Linked DNA regions of Homo sapiens. The protein of the gene in region 2 interacts with the protein of the main gene of each other region in a biochemical or structural test. Each region holds a gene or a part of one and is shown on either strand. Other genes may lie near its edges.

Region 1 (3,500 bases), on a different chromosome or scaffold from region 2:
CTCTTGCAAAAGTCAGCTCTGCCTAGTTCGTTTTCTCCCATCCGTTTGTTGGCTCACCAGTCTTACTCTCTGTGACTTTGGGCTTTCTCTTAATTAAAATTCTCTCCTTTCTTGGCTTTTGTGACATCACTTCTACAGGTTTTTTTGGTTTTGTTTTTGTTTCTTTTTAAAGAGTTGGAGTCTCGCAATGTTTCTGATGCTGGTCTCAAACTCCTGGCCTCAAGCACTGCTCCTGCCTCAGCCTCCCAAAGTGCTGGGCTTACAGGTGTGAGCTACCGTGCCCAGCCACAGATTTATTTCTGATGCTTCTCAGTCTTCTGTTTGCCCATCTCTTTAATTCTGCATTTCCCAAGATGTTATCTTTGTACATTTAACATTCTTAAACAAGTCAGATAGTGTCTCCTTTCCTTTCATGAAGTAACACCATTGCTTTTTCTTATTTCAATTTATTCTCTTTTCTGCATTACTTCCTCTCAGTTTATTTACATCACCACTCTGTACAACAAGTGTGATTCCCATGTCTGTTCTTAGCCACTACTCCTCTTGAATATCATACAGTCACTTCAGGCTTGGATAAATTCTGAGCCTCAGTGTATTCATATGTAAAATGGGGATGATCATAATATTGCCATTTTAGGGGGATTTTGAGGATTAAATGAGATGTGTAATTAAGCCTTCAATAAATGTTAGATGAGGTAATAATTAAGATCTCACAATTAAGTATTCTTAGTATCCTTTCAAAGAAGTTACCTGTTTACATCATCCATTGACTCTCCTACGTTCTAGAAGTCTTAGTACAAAATCAACATGGAGACTTGTTTACAACCGTATTAATAAATTAGTGTTTGTTTCTGTTTCTACGTGGTATCTTTTTCTTCAGGTTTTGAAAGTTGTAGTAATGGTGTAATATCAAATAAAGCACATCAATCATATTGCCATAGTAATAAACACCAGTCATCCAACTTGAATGTACCAGAACTAAACAGTATAAATATGTCAAGATCACAGCAAGTTAATAACTTCACCAGGTAAGTAATTTCACTGACTTTTGCACTAATATAAGCAACCTAGTTATAGGTGTAATCGTTGTAATAATTTTGAAAGAACTTGAATTATGTGACCCACAGAGGGGCTCTGGGAGTTCTTAAGCCCCCAGAGAATAAAAGCGTAGGGAGTCAGTTCCCCAAAGCTTTTTAGTCTCCTATTATGCACATGAGCTCTTTCCTTAGTTTCTTCCTCTTCTCTACTACCTTCTTCCCTCTAGTAAAGTTATAAGGACAAATTCAGGGCTTCATGCATTGTCTTCCTGCCAGCCACAGAGCTATACAAATGATCACATAAATGCCATTTGTTATGTTTTCACAGTGGTTAAGACACAGTAGCATATTTAACCTTGAACGGTGACATAAGATAAATTTACAACTGATTTTTTCTCTGTGTGTGAGTTTTTTTTGGTGTAAATGTGTAGAATGTTTTCCAAGTTCAAAACTAACTTTACAAATAATCTTTTTTGAAAGCCTGCCTTTAAGTAGCTTGCATATAGCAGATGGTTAAGTCATTTAGTAAACATTGGTGTGAGGATGGTTTTGAGGATTTGTTGGGCACCAAACATTCTGCTAGGTAGGGTGTCTCACTTTGAAGAGGTTTGAAAGATGATATCTCAGTCAGTGTACTATGACCCTTGATATACTCAGGTTTAATATTTATGAAACCTAAAAGTTCATGAAGTGACATTATTTGAATTAAATACTACTGTGCAGTAGCAAATTATTGTGAATTCACCCTGCCCAAATCATCCAGGACTGGGTCAATTTAATATTGGTTTGGTCTATAACAAACCAGTTGGTTACATTGCATTTTCAGGAAATGGTCATCAGTGCCACATTTTCTTATTAAAGGAGAGAGAGCCTAACTTTTAGCATGGAATCTTAATGGAAATATGATTTTGCAGAAAGGATTGTATGTAAAAAAAAATCTGTATTTGAAAATTGGGAGATTAATCTCAATTTCTGGGTTGTCTGTCACACGTGACAAAAATTTACTGAAGTAATAGTGTGTGTGATTGATATAAGTTGTAATGGAGAACCACAAAAGTGTATGAGAAGAGCAGAAAAATCGTCTTTCACAGCAGAGGTGATATATTGGAAAATATAAAATCAAAATATTATAGTTTAAAAATAGATGGAAATGTAAAAAGTTAAGTACTTCATCATGCTTTATACTAAATGCATTGGTACTTTATCATTGATCAAGGCTCTTGCCAATGTTTGAGGGTAAGATTGCAGTCAGTTTGTGAGTTTTTCTCTTGAATACTATCCCTACAGCAGGAAGTTGCTAAACAGATCTATTATTACCTGAGTTCAGGGAAGCAAGCTTAACGGAAGGGTCTGATGACACAACATCCTCCTTTGTCTGCAGTATAAAAGGGAAAGAAAGTCAACTTTGAACTGCCTTAAGCTATAAGTTATTTTGTAGTTGGTAATGGCTTTCCTAACTGTGAAGTAGGCAAAGATGGTATTAACTATTTAAACCATTTTACAGATGTAGAGCGGGATATCAGAAAAGTAAATGACTTTTTTTTCTTAAGGTCAATTATTAGTAGCTAGTAAGTTGCAGAGCTGAGGCTGCGTTTCAGGATTTGACTTGCAAACTTGTGCTTTTTCCCTGATACCGCCCACCATCTGAAATGCTCTTCTTCCTACCCTCCCTCACCTCCAGTATAACTTCTGTCCAGGCTGAGAAAATTCAAGTTCAGATGTCAGTTCTTCCAGGATGTTTTCCTTGATTTACATCCCATCAAATATGTCATGTTTTGTGATTAACTTCCATCATAGTACTGATCATAATTACTCTGTAATATAATAACTTAATTAGCTTTTTATAGGTTGTTTGCTACAGGAAGGCAGAGGCTGTTTCATAATATCCTTAGCACCTAACAGGGATCATACCTCAGAGGCTCTTAAATGTGTGTTAAATGAACGAGTTCCTTCCAAATACTAAACTGAGTTATCAAAAAAAAAAAAAAAGTTTAGTATTTTTTAAAAAGCCACTGAAAGCTGTGATGGTAAGGATTTTCTTATTCTTAAAGTTTGGTTTTTCTTACCAATTTTCGAAGTTTGTTAAGATTATAAACAAGCTTTCCTGGTTGAGTAAGTCTGCTCTGGAGTCGTAGGGCCATATCCCCCTTTTCCCTAGATCTCTTGTTTTTTTTTTTTTTACCTTAACAATTTTACTAACAGGAGTGTATGCATGCACACACACACCCCCAAGGTGTTAGAATTTGTTACCTCTGGTGGTATTACGCATAGTGGTTTTTGCTCATCTGTGTTTTTTTTTCTACAATTGAATATATATTGCTTTTGTAATGAGAAATGTCATTTTTATCTAAGCATTACCTAAAATTTCATCGAGTGTTTACTTCTAGATTGTATAATTATTACCTAGGCTTCCATAGGATAAATCCTAAAGATTAGATATTTATTGTTGCTTATAAGAGTGCG
Region 2 (4,244 bases):
TGTGCGAGTGTGTGTGCGTGCATGTGGTGTGTTTGTGTATATGAACAAGTACATATAGTATGTGTGCTTTGTGTCTGGTGTTGTGTATGAGTGTGAGGTGTGTGTGTATGCGTGCATGTGTGGTGGTTGGTGTTTGTGGTGTGTGTGCATATTTGTGGTGTGTTTGCTGTGTGTGGGTGCCATGTGCGTGTATATGTGGGTGCGTGTGTGCTACGTGTGACTGTGTGTGCATGAGTTATATTTGTGTGTGAGTATTGTGTGTGTGCATATATGTGGGTGTGTATGCCATGTGTGACTGTGTGTGCATGTGGTGTATTTATGTGTAGGAGTGCGTGTGTGTGTGTCTGTGAGGAGGGGCACATACCCTTTCTCCCAGGGTGTGGCAGCAGGCAGGTTGGGGGTGGAGTGGGCTCTGCACTTGTCCTGCCGCCCAGGGGGGCTGAAGGCTGGAGGGTGGGGCAGAGGGGACAGGCTTCGTCACCCTCCCTCCCTGCTCATTCATTAACATGATGTGTGTTTATGGAGAGCTGACTTGTACCAGGCACGGTTCTGGGAGCCAGGGACACAGGCTGGTTGCGGTGACAGGTAAACAGACAGCTACACAACCGCACGTGTGACTGAGACGCGGGCGAGCGGAAGTCCAGGGCTGGGATGGAGAAAGGGGCCTCCTGGGGACGGCCCGCGTGGGCCTTGCTGGGAAGTGCCAGGTTCGTGTGATGCCTGTCTATGTGGCTGCTGATGAGGGCGCCCGTGGGACTGCAGGCATGGGGCCGGGTTAGGTGTGAGCCCAGGTGAGCCGCTGCCACTCTCAATGAAAGGCGTCCCCAATGTCGCTGGCGTCAACTCTAAGCACCCCAGGCGGGTTTCAGTGTCACTGCGAGGCACATGCCTGCGTCCGGGAGTCATGTCCTTCCTCTGAAACTCCAGCCTGCCTGGATGTCCTGTGTCTGGTCCTCAGCTCTCCTGCCAGGCGGGGAGAGGGGAGGTCAGGAGGATTTGGGGGCTGGAGGAGAGGGTGCCAGTGCACAGCCCGCTCGGGGCCACACGCCCCCAGACACCCTGTGTGAGATGTGAGGTGTGGCTCCTTTTGTTCTGTCCCCACCGGCAGGCCAGGCAGCAGCGTTCAACGTGACCTTCCGGCGGGCCAAGGGCTACCCCATCGACCTGTACTATCTGATGGACCTCTCCTACTCCATGCTTGATGACCTCAGGAATGTCAAGAAGCTAGGTGGCGACCTGCTCCGGGCCCTCAACGAGATCACCGAGTCCGGCCGCATTGGTGAGGCCCAGGCACTGCAGGACAAAACCCAGTCCTTTCCCAGACCCTGGCCACTCCTGCCTGTGGCCCACACAACTCCTCGCACTCAGGTCCCCAGGGTAGATCTGGGGGCCCCAGATGCAGGTCCCCCCAGGGCATCCACAGGGCTGCAGTCGGCCTGCCTCCCTGCCAGGGGCCACACCCAGTCCCTGGCTCCCCAACACTTGTAGACATTGTCCAGCCCTCCACTTCCCCTTCCATCTTCTACTTCCTTTATTTATTTCTTGGTATGTTTAAAAGACAAAATTCTGACAGTGCCAATTATTAAACATTAAAGACCACAACACATATAGACGGCACAGCGACGGCAGCACTGAAGAAACCACACAGCAAGCTCTGCTGGGCCAAGGGCTCCGCTCTACACCAGCACTGCCTTGCCACAGAGCAGGTCTCCAGCACACGTGTGTGTCAGTCACAGCGCATGTCTTCCCCGCCGGCCGTGGCTTCTCACATCGGCACTCTGCCACCTTCCCTACATGCGGGGATGCACACATGCACGATAACACACACACACACAAGCAAATGCATGCTCACACAAATGCACGCTCACACACAAATGCACGCTCATGCACGTGAATGCACGCTCACACACAAATGCATGTTCACACATGCAATGCACACTCACACACAAATGCATGCTCAAACGCAAATGCACGCTCACACATGCGAATGCACACTCACACATGAATGTATCCTCACATGCACAAATGGATGCTCACACACGCGAATGCATGCTCACACACAAAAGCACACCCAAACTCAAATGCACACACACGTGAATGCATGCTCACACACGTGAATGTATGCTCACACACATGCTCAAACACACAAATGCATGCTCTCACATGTGAATGTATGCTCACACATGAATGTATGCTCACACGCAAATGCATGCTCACACACGCGAATGTATGCTCACATGCACAAATGCACGCTCACACACGTGAATGCACGCTCACACACAAATGCATGCTCACACACATGAATGCATGCTCACACTTGCATGTGCACACACATGCACACACAGTCATACACACGTGCAAGACCACATGTGCACACAGACATGCTCACATGCACACTCATGATCACCCATGTATGTCTTCACTCACATGTATAAATCGTACATAAACACACATGCCCACATATGTACCTGGTCACCTACGTGAACTAGGTGTGTCCATACCTGAACATGCTCACATGCATACAGGAATACGTGCACACACAGTTGTGCTACGCATGTACACACTCATGTTTACACATGCAGATGGCTGCACACACAGATACACATACGCACCTGTTCACATGCCCACATGTATACCTGGTCACACACATACATGCAGGAACACACATGCATACACTTATGCTCATCCATGTACATTGCACACTCCCAGGTTCACACACACGCCCACATACGTTCACATGTGTGCTTGCACAACGCACATGCTCACACACACACTCCACATGTGCCATCTTGCTTTCTCCACCTCCCTGCTAGGAGAGAGGAAACAGGCTTGCCCTCGTGCCCCTTTGAAGCTGGCCCTCCCACCTGGGCCCAGCCTGCCACCTCCCCAGCCCCTCCATGTGCCCTGCAGGCTTCGGGTCCTTCGTGGACAAGACCGTGCTGCCGTTCGTGAACACGCACCCTGATAAGCTGCGAAACCCATGCCCCAACAAGGAGAAAGAGTGCCAGCCCCCGTTTGCCTTCAGGCACGTGCTGAAGCTGACCAACAACTCCAACCAGTTTCAGACCGAGGTCGGGAAGCAGCTGATTTCCGGAAACCTGGATGCACCCGAGGGTGGGCTGGACGCCATGATGCAGGTCGCCGCCTGCCCGGTGAGGCCGCTGCCCCTGCTTGGGTCCCCACGTTCCCCCAGTGTGGGGGGCTCTGTCAGGCGCTGTGTGGGGGCAGGGGGGTACCCTGGCCGGCAGGTCGTCTGAGGGACTCCAGCCTGGGCCTGGGGAGAGCAGCTCCTCACCCTGCTGCTGCCCATGCAGGAAAGGGCAGGAGGAAGGGAGGGTGACCACGAGGGCTCGAAAATCATGCGCTGATTTCATTGTTTGCTGTGAGTTAAATTTGTGACCCTGGGCAAACCTTATGAAGCCTAAACATTTTGCGAGCGGCCAAGGGTGGAACAGGGCCGCTAGGCAGCAGGTCCCGTGGTTCCTGGGGTGGAACCACCCTCCTCCCTCCAGGCCGGGTGGGCGCTGGCTGCCCAGTGTGTGTCGCTCTCCACGTCCCGCCCACCCAGTTTGTGACTGTCAGCCTAACAGAGCAGCCACAGTCCCTGGGCCATGTTGAGGCCACATGCACTGTCCTCCCCTCACAACCCACCTTAGCTCTCCTGCTTCCCTGCAGTCCCAGCGCAGACACACTGCTCACGAGTGTGAGGTCACAGCCTAGGACACGCACGGCCCCCACATGCGCCTGCCAGGGGCTGTCAATGGTGGACTCAAGGCCTGCTGGGCCCCTCAGGCTCGTTTTCCTCCATGTTGCACTCGTTCTGCGTGTGGCCCACACGTCTGCGAGGGTTTTTCCCCTTGGGGATGGTTTCCTGAGGGTTTGTTCCCAGCTCTGAAGTGCAGGGACCGCAGCCGTGTCTCTCTCCTTGCCTTTCCACACGTGCCTCCACTCCCTGCGCCTCACATGTGCACGGGGTGTTTGAGGGCCGTTGTCTCCTCCTGGGCGTGGCGTCTGGGGGAACACAGCTGGGTCCCTGAGACCCAGGGGAAAGGGGGACCCACACCAGCCTCCGGGCCACCCCACCAGCTCTGCATCGTCTCCTCTGCTCCAGAGGGCCGGGTCTGGGAAACTGAGGCAGGTAACCCTGCCCCCCACGCCTTCTTCTCAGGAGGAAATCGGCTGGCGCAACGTCACGCGGCTGCTGGTGTTTGCCACTGATGACGGCTTCCATTTCGCGGGCGACG
Region 3 (3,500 bases), on a different chromosome or scaffold from region 2:
TATATATATATGTGCAGAGGTCACTGGCAGAGCAGGGGCATTTCAGGGCACCTCTGGGTCAGCGGTCCTGCAGCTCTCCCATGCCATCTGAGTACCAGGGGCTCCCTTTTGCACCACTGGCCTTCTCGGTGACCATCTGGGCAACCAGTGTGAATTGAACACTTACTTGGTGCTGGCCACTGGGTTTTTGTCCCTGAGCCTGAGATGCCACCCTGCCCTGGCCGGACGGAGGAGGGCTGCTCTGGCTTCTGGGCCAGGCCCTCCTCCCCACTTCCACCCCAGCTGGCCAGCCACACCCTCCCCATGGCCTGGGGAACCACCACCCTTGGGCTGCAGGTCAGACGTGACCCTACAGGGCACCTTGTCCATCCAGCCCCCATTCCCCACCCCTCTGTGCAGTGCCCTCCAGGGGCCTCCAGGTTCTGTTTATGTCATTCCAAAGGGAGAGGAAGCTCATTACCACACAGCAGCCCTTCCAGCTCTGCTCTAAGGGCCCAAACACTGGCCTGCCCTTAGCTGTGGCTCTGGTGCCTCCTGCTTCCATAGGCCCTGCCTTCCTGGGTCCTGAAGGCTCAAGCTCTGGCTGCAGAAGGAGGCAGCCCAGATCAAACCCAGTTTGGATGCAGCCTGGGCCCACAGAAGCCTCTCTGATGAGGTCGGGGGGCTGAGCCTATGGCAGTGCAAACCGAGTGTTCATTCTTAGGGTGTTTGGGAAGCCCCCCTTCATCTCCCACCTGGCACCCTGACTGGGGAACTGGCCCTTTAAAGCCAACCAAGGGCTGGCTTTTGGGGGGAAACATCCTAGATTTCTGCCATCTACTTACAAGCCTGGGCCAGGGAGGGGGGGCCACTCAGCCCCCGACAGGGGCATTGGAAGGGCAGGTGGAGCCAGTGGCATTGATTGCAGTAACCTGATCCCGTGAGGGAGGCGGCCACAGCGGCAGCAGCGCAAGGGCCAGGCCAGCCGGGAGGAAGGTGCCTGCAGCTGAGGGCTGCGCTGGGAAGAGCTGGGGCTGGGACCCGGGTCGGCAGCTGCAGCCTCCTCTCCTGGCCTGTCTATTTTTAATGAGCTCCCCAGGCTTCTGCAGCAGGCAGGACGCAGAAAGACAGGCCCAAGCGGTGGAGGCCAGAGGCCCCCAGCCCTGCCTTGAGCCCTGGCCCCCCCACCCTTCCGGGCATGAGAGGGCAGCCCTGGGGCCCCGCAGCCCCCCGGCCGGGCAGGGCTCTCCATGCAGCTGGTGCTGAAGATGGATTCGAGCCCAGACAATGACAGCTGGTTGGAGGATCAATGGGAGCGCTGGTAGGGGCTACCGGGGCTGGCGGGGGTGGAGACCGAGTTGGGGTGAGCTCCATCGAGCTCAGGGTCTCTGATCTGAATGAGGCGAGTGGCAGGGAGTCTGGGCCTCCTAGGTTCCCCTGGGGGCTAAGCCACCATCTCTCCTGGGTGACCTTGAACTAGTGGGTTTCCCTTGCTCTGTGCCTCAATTTCTTGGACTTATTTGGGAAAAGGCTCATACATTCTCCCCAACTTCCTAAATGTTCTACCCCCCCACCACCCCCCCAGCAAGCCAGGCAGAGTGCCCAGGACCTAGAGGTGAGCAAGAGACAGGCTGCCTTGCAGTGGCTGGCCCAGCCCTGCATTCTGAGGTGGGGACTCAGGGCTGGCCTAGGGAGAGGGGGGTTCTAGTGGAGCTGGTTAGTATTCTGGTGCCCTGGTGCTCTGAGCTGTCTCCCAAGGTTGTAACACCTCTGGTCCCACCTGGGGCTTCTCCTGACCCCATCTGTGCAGCCTCCTGTTCAGGGTCCTTACACTGGATAAGGAGAAGATGTTGTGGTTGAAGAGATGAGACCACCAAGTGCACAGCATGAGGCTGGAGTCCTTTCTGGAATAGGCTGAAACTACCCACACTGACACCAGATTTTCCTTCGCTTGTTCCCTGGGCTCAAGGGGCATGAGTCTTCCTGAGCTGGGGCGTGGGGCACTCCTCTGAGGCTGCTGCCGGCGCCTCGGGTCTTGCTACTGCAGGGATTGCACTGGGAGCTCCCCTACTCCAGGCTGCTCTTCTCAAGTCCACATTCTCCATGGTGAACTGGCCTTGGCACCTGCCTTGACCCTGGGAGGAGGCTCTGACCAGTTGGGCCTTCTAAGCACTGCCTGCTGGTTGGCAACAGAATGACAGCTTCCAGGGAGGAGCCAGAGTGACCTGGAGCCTCCTCTTCCACTGCCACCCTAGGAGGACTGCCTTTTGGCACAAGCCCCTCGCTCTTTCCCTGCCTGCTGACCACCCCCTGCATTGATACAGATGAACCCCAAATCCTGTCCTCTGGGGGCTGTGTTTGGCCTTCAAGAGGCTGCACCCTGGAAGAGGTAACAGGGAGATGTGAGCAGGCATAGTGCCCCTGAGTTGTAACTTTGGCTTCCTGTCCCCACCAGGCTCACCCATGACATCAGCCTGGAGGAGTTTGAGGATGAAGACCTCTCGGAGATCACTGATGAGTGTGGCATCAGCTTACAGTGCAAAGACACCCTGTCCTTACGGGTAAGGGCAAGCTCCCAGGAGCTCCTGAGTGGGGTGGCAGGAAGGCTAGGGACAGGGGTAAGGGTATCCCCATAGTGACAAAGGGGGTTTCAGGTCTGTGCTGGCACCCTCATGAAATGAAATGATGTGCAAGAAACATAGGTATACTGCTTGGCACGTCTTGAGTGTACAATCAGAATTTCATTTGGTATTATTATTATTATTACTGCTGTCGGGGACTAAGACAGGAAGTAGCTCCTTCAACTGCCCACGAGATGGGAGAGGCCAGGAAGTCTTGAGACCTAGGGCAGTAACAATTAGGACCAGACTTAAGGGAGACTCAGGGCTACCCCTGAATCCTTTTGGGAGCAGCCCTGGCAGAGGGCCTGAGGCAGACAGGGTGGAGTCTGGTGGAATCTGCAGTGCTTTAGGGCAGGAAGAAACAGCCAAGGCACCCCTGGAATAGCTCCTGTGGCTGCTGGCTGCTATTACACCAGACAGATGGCACCACGCGGCCTCCCAGACCCTCTCTGGCCTATAGTCCTAAAGGCCCCCACTGAGGGGTTTGCCCAGCATTGCTGCTGGTTTGGGCCCCTTGGCTTTGTCATAGGGAAGATGGCTCTCTCCTGTCCCTAAAGATCTGAATGCTGCCAGGAGGTCCCCAGCACCTGGGTAACTGGGGTCAGATGGGGATCCCAACTATGTCTTTTCAGAACAGGAAGAAGGGGCCGGCTTGCCAGGAAATGGAGGACAGAGCACAGGGCTAGGTTTTAGAGCCCAGAGCTCCTCTGAGCCCCCAAGAGGGCGGGTAGCCAGATACGGTGTCAGGAGAGTGGTTACCATAGGAGCGTGAGGTGTGCCTTGGGGAGGGAGTACCTGTCTCTGTGTTGACCTCCTGCTACTCCCAGAGACTCAGTAAGCTCTGCAAGAGGAAACCAAGGGGTGAGGATAATCCCCTAGTCCCCAGTACCCCAACCTTCC
Region 4 (3,500 bases), on a different chromosome or scaffold from region 2:
CTATTACATTCAGGCGGGTGCTGGATGCAAACTGTAGGATGGGGCTCAACTAGTAAGCTTGTCGAACAGATAGGGTAATTAATAGTTGTAACTTTTTTTTTTTTTTTTTTTGAGACAGTCTCACTTTGTCGCCCATGCTGGAGTGCAGTGGCACAATCTCAGCTCACTGCAACCTCTGCCTCCCGGGTTCAAGCAATTCTCCTGCCTCAGCCTCTCGCGTAGCTGAGACTACAAGCACCCACCACCAAGCCTAGCTAATTTTTGTATTTTTAGTAGAACAGGGTTTCACCATGTTGGCCAGGCTGGCGTTGAACTCCTGACCTCATGATCCACCCGCCTCAGCCTCCCAAAGTGCTAGGATTACAGGTGTGAGCCACCACACCCGGCCCTAGTTGTAACTTTTTTTTTTTTTTTTTTTTGAGACGGAGTCTTGCTCTGTCGCCCAGGCTGGCGCCATCTCAGCTCACTGCAAGCTCCGCCTCCCGGGTTCACGCCATTCTCCCGCCTCAGCCTCCCGAGTAGCTGGGACTACAGGCGCCCGCTATCACGCCTGGCTAATTTTTTTGTATTTTTAGTAGACACGGGGTTTTACTGTGTTAGCCAGAATGGTCTCAATCTCCTGACGTCGTGATCCGCTCGCCTCAGCCTCCCAAAGTGCTGGGATTACAGGCGTGAGCCACTGTGCCCGGCCTGTAACTTTTTTTAAAATCCCGAATCATTTTTTTAAAATTGTGGAGCCTGCCAGGTGCAGTGGTTCACGCCTGTAATCCCAACACTTTGGGAGGCTGAGGCGGGCGGATCACCTGAGGTCCGGAGTTCCAGACCAGCCTGACCAACATGGAGAAATCCCATCTCTACTAAAAAAAAATTGTGGAACCTGAGACTTAACATAGCTAACTTCTTACACCTTAAAATGTTATTCATTTATCTTTTTTTTTTTTATTTTTTGAGATGGAGTCTTGCTCTGTTGCCCAGGCTGGAGTGCAGTGGCATGATCTAGGCTCACTGCAAGCTCCGCCTCCCAGGTTCAAGCAATTCTCCTTCCTCAGCCTCCTGAGTAGCTGGGATTGTGGACGTGCACCACTACACCCGGCTAATTTTTGTATTTTTAGTAGAGATGGGGTTTCACCATTTTGGTCAGGCTGGTCTTGAACTCCTGACTTCAAGCGATCCGCCCACCTCAGCCTCCCAAAGTGCTGGGATTACAGGTGTGAACCACCGTGCCTGGCCTCATTTATTTATCTTATTTTGCGATGTTCAAAGTCCAGAAGGCAAAAGGGCAGGTATATAATGAAGTCTCCTTCCCATTCTGTTTGCTAGCCATCTATTTCTTCTCTACAAAGGAAACTATGTTAGTTATTTCTCGTGTATCCTTCCAAAAACTTTTTATGGACATAAAAGCAAATACGAATATATATTTTCTCATTTTTTACACAAATTGTAATAATCTATGCATACTCTTATGTAGCTTGCTTTTTGTATTTAACATATCTTGGAGATGATTCTGTAGCAGTACTCTACAGGTACGGAGTATTCTATAATATGAGTATGCGATGGTTTTAGAAGTCTGCATGGGATATTTACATTGTTTCCTTCAAGAATAACATGGTATGTGGATTATTTCAAACACATGTTCTAGTTTCATATGAAGATGTGCTTTTTAATGTTTTAAAAAAATTGTGATTGAGGTACAACATATAGACAGTAAAATACTAAAGTGTATAGCTCAGTGAGTTTGTACGCATGTCTACACTGCGTCTCCATTAGCTAGATAACTGTTCTAAGGGCTTGCTTTCTTGAGTTGCACAATTCCCTGTATTTACCTAAAGGATTAATTAAAGGAACCACTTCTACTTGTATCACACCATGCTGGTCTCTTTCTATTCCACTAGTTCAGTAAAGAAAGAGGACACACTCTTTTTCCCTCTAATCAGATGGGTAGGGATAGGTTAAGAGATAAGTGAGTCTTGTCTGTAGAGTTCTCTATTCTCAATCATCTATAGCATGCTTGGCCTTATAGCTGTTTAGCTTTTTATAAAGAAATGCTCCCCCAGGTGAGGTGGCTCACGCCTGTAATCCTAGCACATTCGGAGGCCAAGGTGGACGGATCACTTGAGGTCAGGAGTTCGAGACCAGCCTGGCTAATGTGGTGAAACCCTGTCTCTACTAAAAATACAAAAATTAGCTGGGTGTGGTGGTGCACGCCTGTAATCCCAGCTACTCGGGAGGCTAATGCAGGAGAATCACTTGAACCCGGGAGGTGGAGGTTGCAGTGAGCTGAGATGACGCCACTGCACTCCAGCCTGTGTGACAGAGTGAGACTCCATTTCAAAAAAAAAAAAAAAGGTAATGCTGTTTTTTTCTGAATGGCTAAGAAAATGGAGTACAGGTTGACTATTCCTAATCTGAAAATTTGAAACCCAATCCAAAAATTTGAAACCCAAAATGCTCCAAAATCTGAAATCTTTAGAATGCCAACTTGGCACTCAAAGTGCTCATTGGAGCAATTGGATTTCAGGTTTTCAGATTAGGGATGCTTAACTGGTATGTATTCTGCAAATATTCCAAAATTTGAAACACTTGTGGTCCTAAGCATTTCAGATAGCAGATACATGAAATGTGTTGACATTTAGATAATTTTAGTCAATAAAATGTAAAACACAATTACATTATTTGGAAATTTCTGGAATCAATGAATTTTCTCCTTCTGCTAATACCTGCCTAAGTAAAATTAAAGTGATGATTTAATATCAATTTGTTCACAGCTTTGTTTGCTAGCAAAATGCTTTAAGCCTGCCCTTCCATATCTTGACGTGGATATGATGGATATCTGTAAAGAGAATGGAGCCTATGATGCAAAACACTTTTTATGTTACTATTATTATGGAGGGATGATCTATACTGGGCTGAAGAACTTTGAAAGAGCTCTCTACTTTTATGAACAGGTAATCTCTCTAAAAATTAGCTGAGGTTGTTCTGAACTTGTGTGATCAAAAAAGTGCTCCCATAGGTTTGTGGCTAGAGTGGTCTGATCCCAGGGCCTCCGTTTCAGGTGTTGGTCCTTTCAGAGACTACTTCTCTGTGATCATGTAAATAGTGGTAACCTGATCCCTAAGTTGAGGAGCAGCGCCAGTGCATAGAAGAGCACTTGTCTGGGGGTTCTAATCTAGGCTTGCACTTATACCTTATCTGATTTGGAATAAGTTATGACATCTCTTGACCTTTATAGCTTCCTTTGCATATAAGGAAGAGATTGAACTGAGTGATCTTGGTTGTGTCTTATTCTAAAACCATGTGTGGTATTTTGTTAAGTTTTATTTAATCAGTGAAACATTCTCTTGATTCAAAATTTAAAGGGTAGAAAGGAGTACACAGTAAAAGTCCCTCCCACCCTTTCTGTGTCTGTGTAATGAAACATAGTACACAATTTGGTAGAATATTCTGGAGGTTTACTCAGACTCTGAAAAAGAGATACACAATATTGATTAATAAACCACTTT

What was found. The genes of interacting proteins can lie anywhere in the genome.
Region 1: the proteins of ITGB2 (region 2) and RANBP9 form a complex in vitro, tested with the Homo sapiens proteins (one study listed by BioGRID and IntAct).
Region 3: the proteins of ITGB2 (region 2) and MAPK8IP1 form a complex in vitro, tested with the Homo sapiens proteins (one study listed by IntAct).
Region 4: the proteins of ITGB2 (region 2) and COPS3 form a complex in vitro, tested with the Homo sapiens proteins (one study listed by IntAct).

What each region holds. Positions count from the first base shown.
Region 1 is NC_000006.12:13,635,336-13,638,835, reverse strand, and holds part of RANBP9 (ran-binding protein 9), read left to right. Parts: intron 1-880; coding exon 881-1,028; intron 1,029-3,500. UniProt on the Homo sapiens protein: May act as scaffolding protein, and as adapter protein to couple membrane receptors to intracellular signaling pathways. Acts as a mediator of cell spreading and actin cytoskeleton rearrangement.
Region 2 is NC_000021.9:44,900,400-44,904,643, reverse strand, and holds part of ITGB2 (integrin beta-2 isoform 1 precursor), read left to right. Parts: intron 1-1,108; coding exon 1,109-1,279; intron 1,280-2,910; coding exon 2,911-3,152; intron 3,153-4,168; coding exon 4,169-4,244.
Region 3 is NC_000011.10:45,895,651-45,899,150, forward strand, and holds part of MAPK8IP1 (C-Jun-amino-terminal kinase-interacting protein 1), read left to right. Parts: intron 1-2,434; coding exon 2,435-2,540; intron 2,541-2,745; exon of another isoform or gene 2,746-2,821; intron 2,822-3,395; exon of another isoform or gene 3,396-3,441; intron 3,442-3,500. UniProt on the Homo sapiens protein: The JNK-interacting protein (JIP) group of scaffold proteins selectively mediates JNK signaling by aggregating specific components of the MAPK cascade to form a functional JNK signaling module. Required for JNK activation in response to excitotoxic stress.
Region 4 is NC_000017.11:17,264,247-17,267,746, reverse strand, and holds part of COPS3 (COP9 signalosome complex subunit 3), read left to right. Parts: intron 1-2,765; coding exon 2,766-2,945; intron 2,946-3,500. UniProt on the Homo sapiens protein: Component of the COP9 signalosome complex (CSN), a complex involved in various cellular and developmental processes.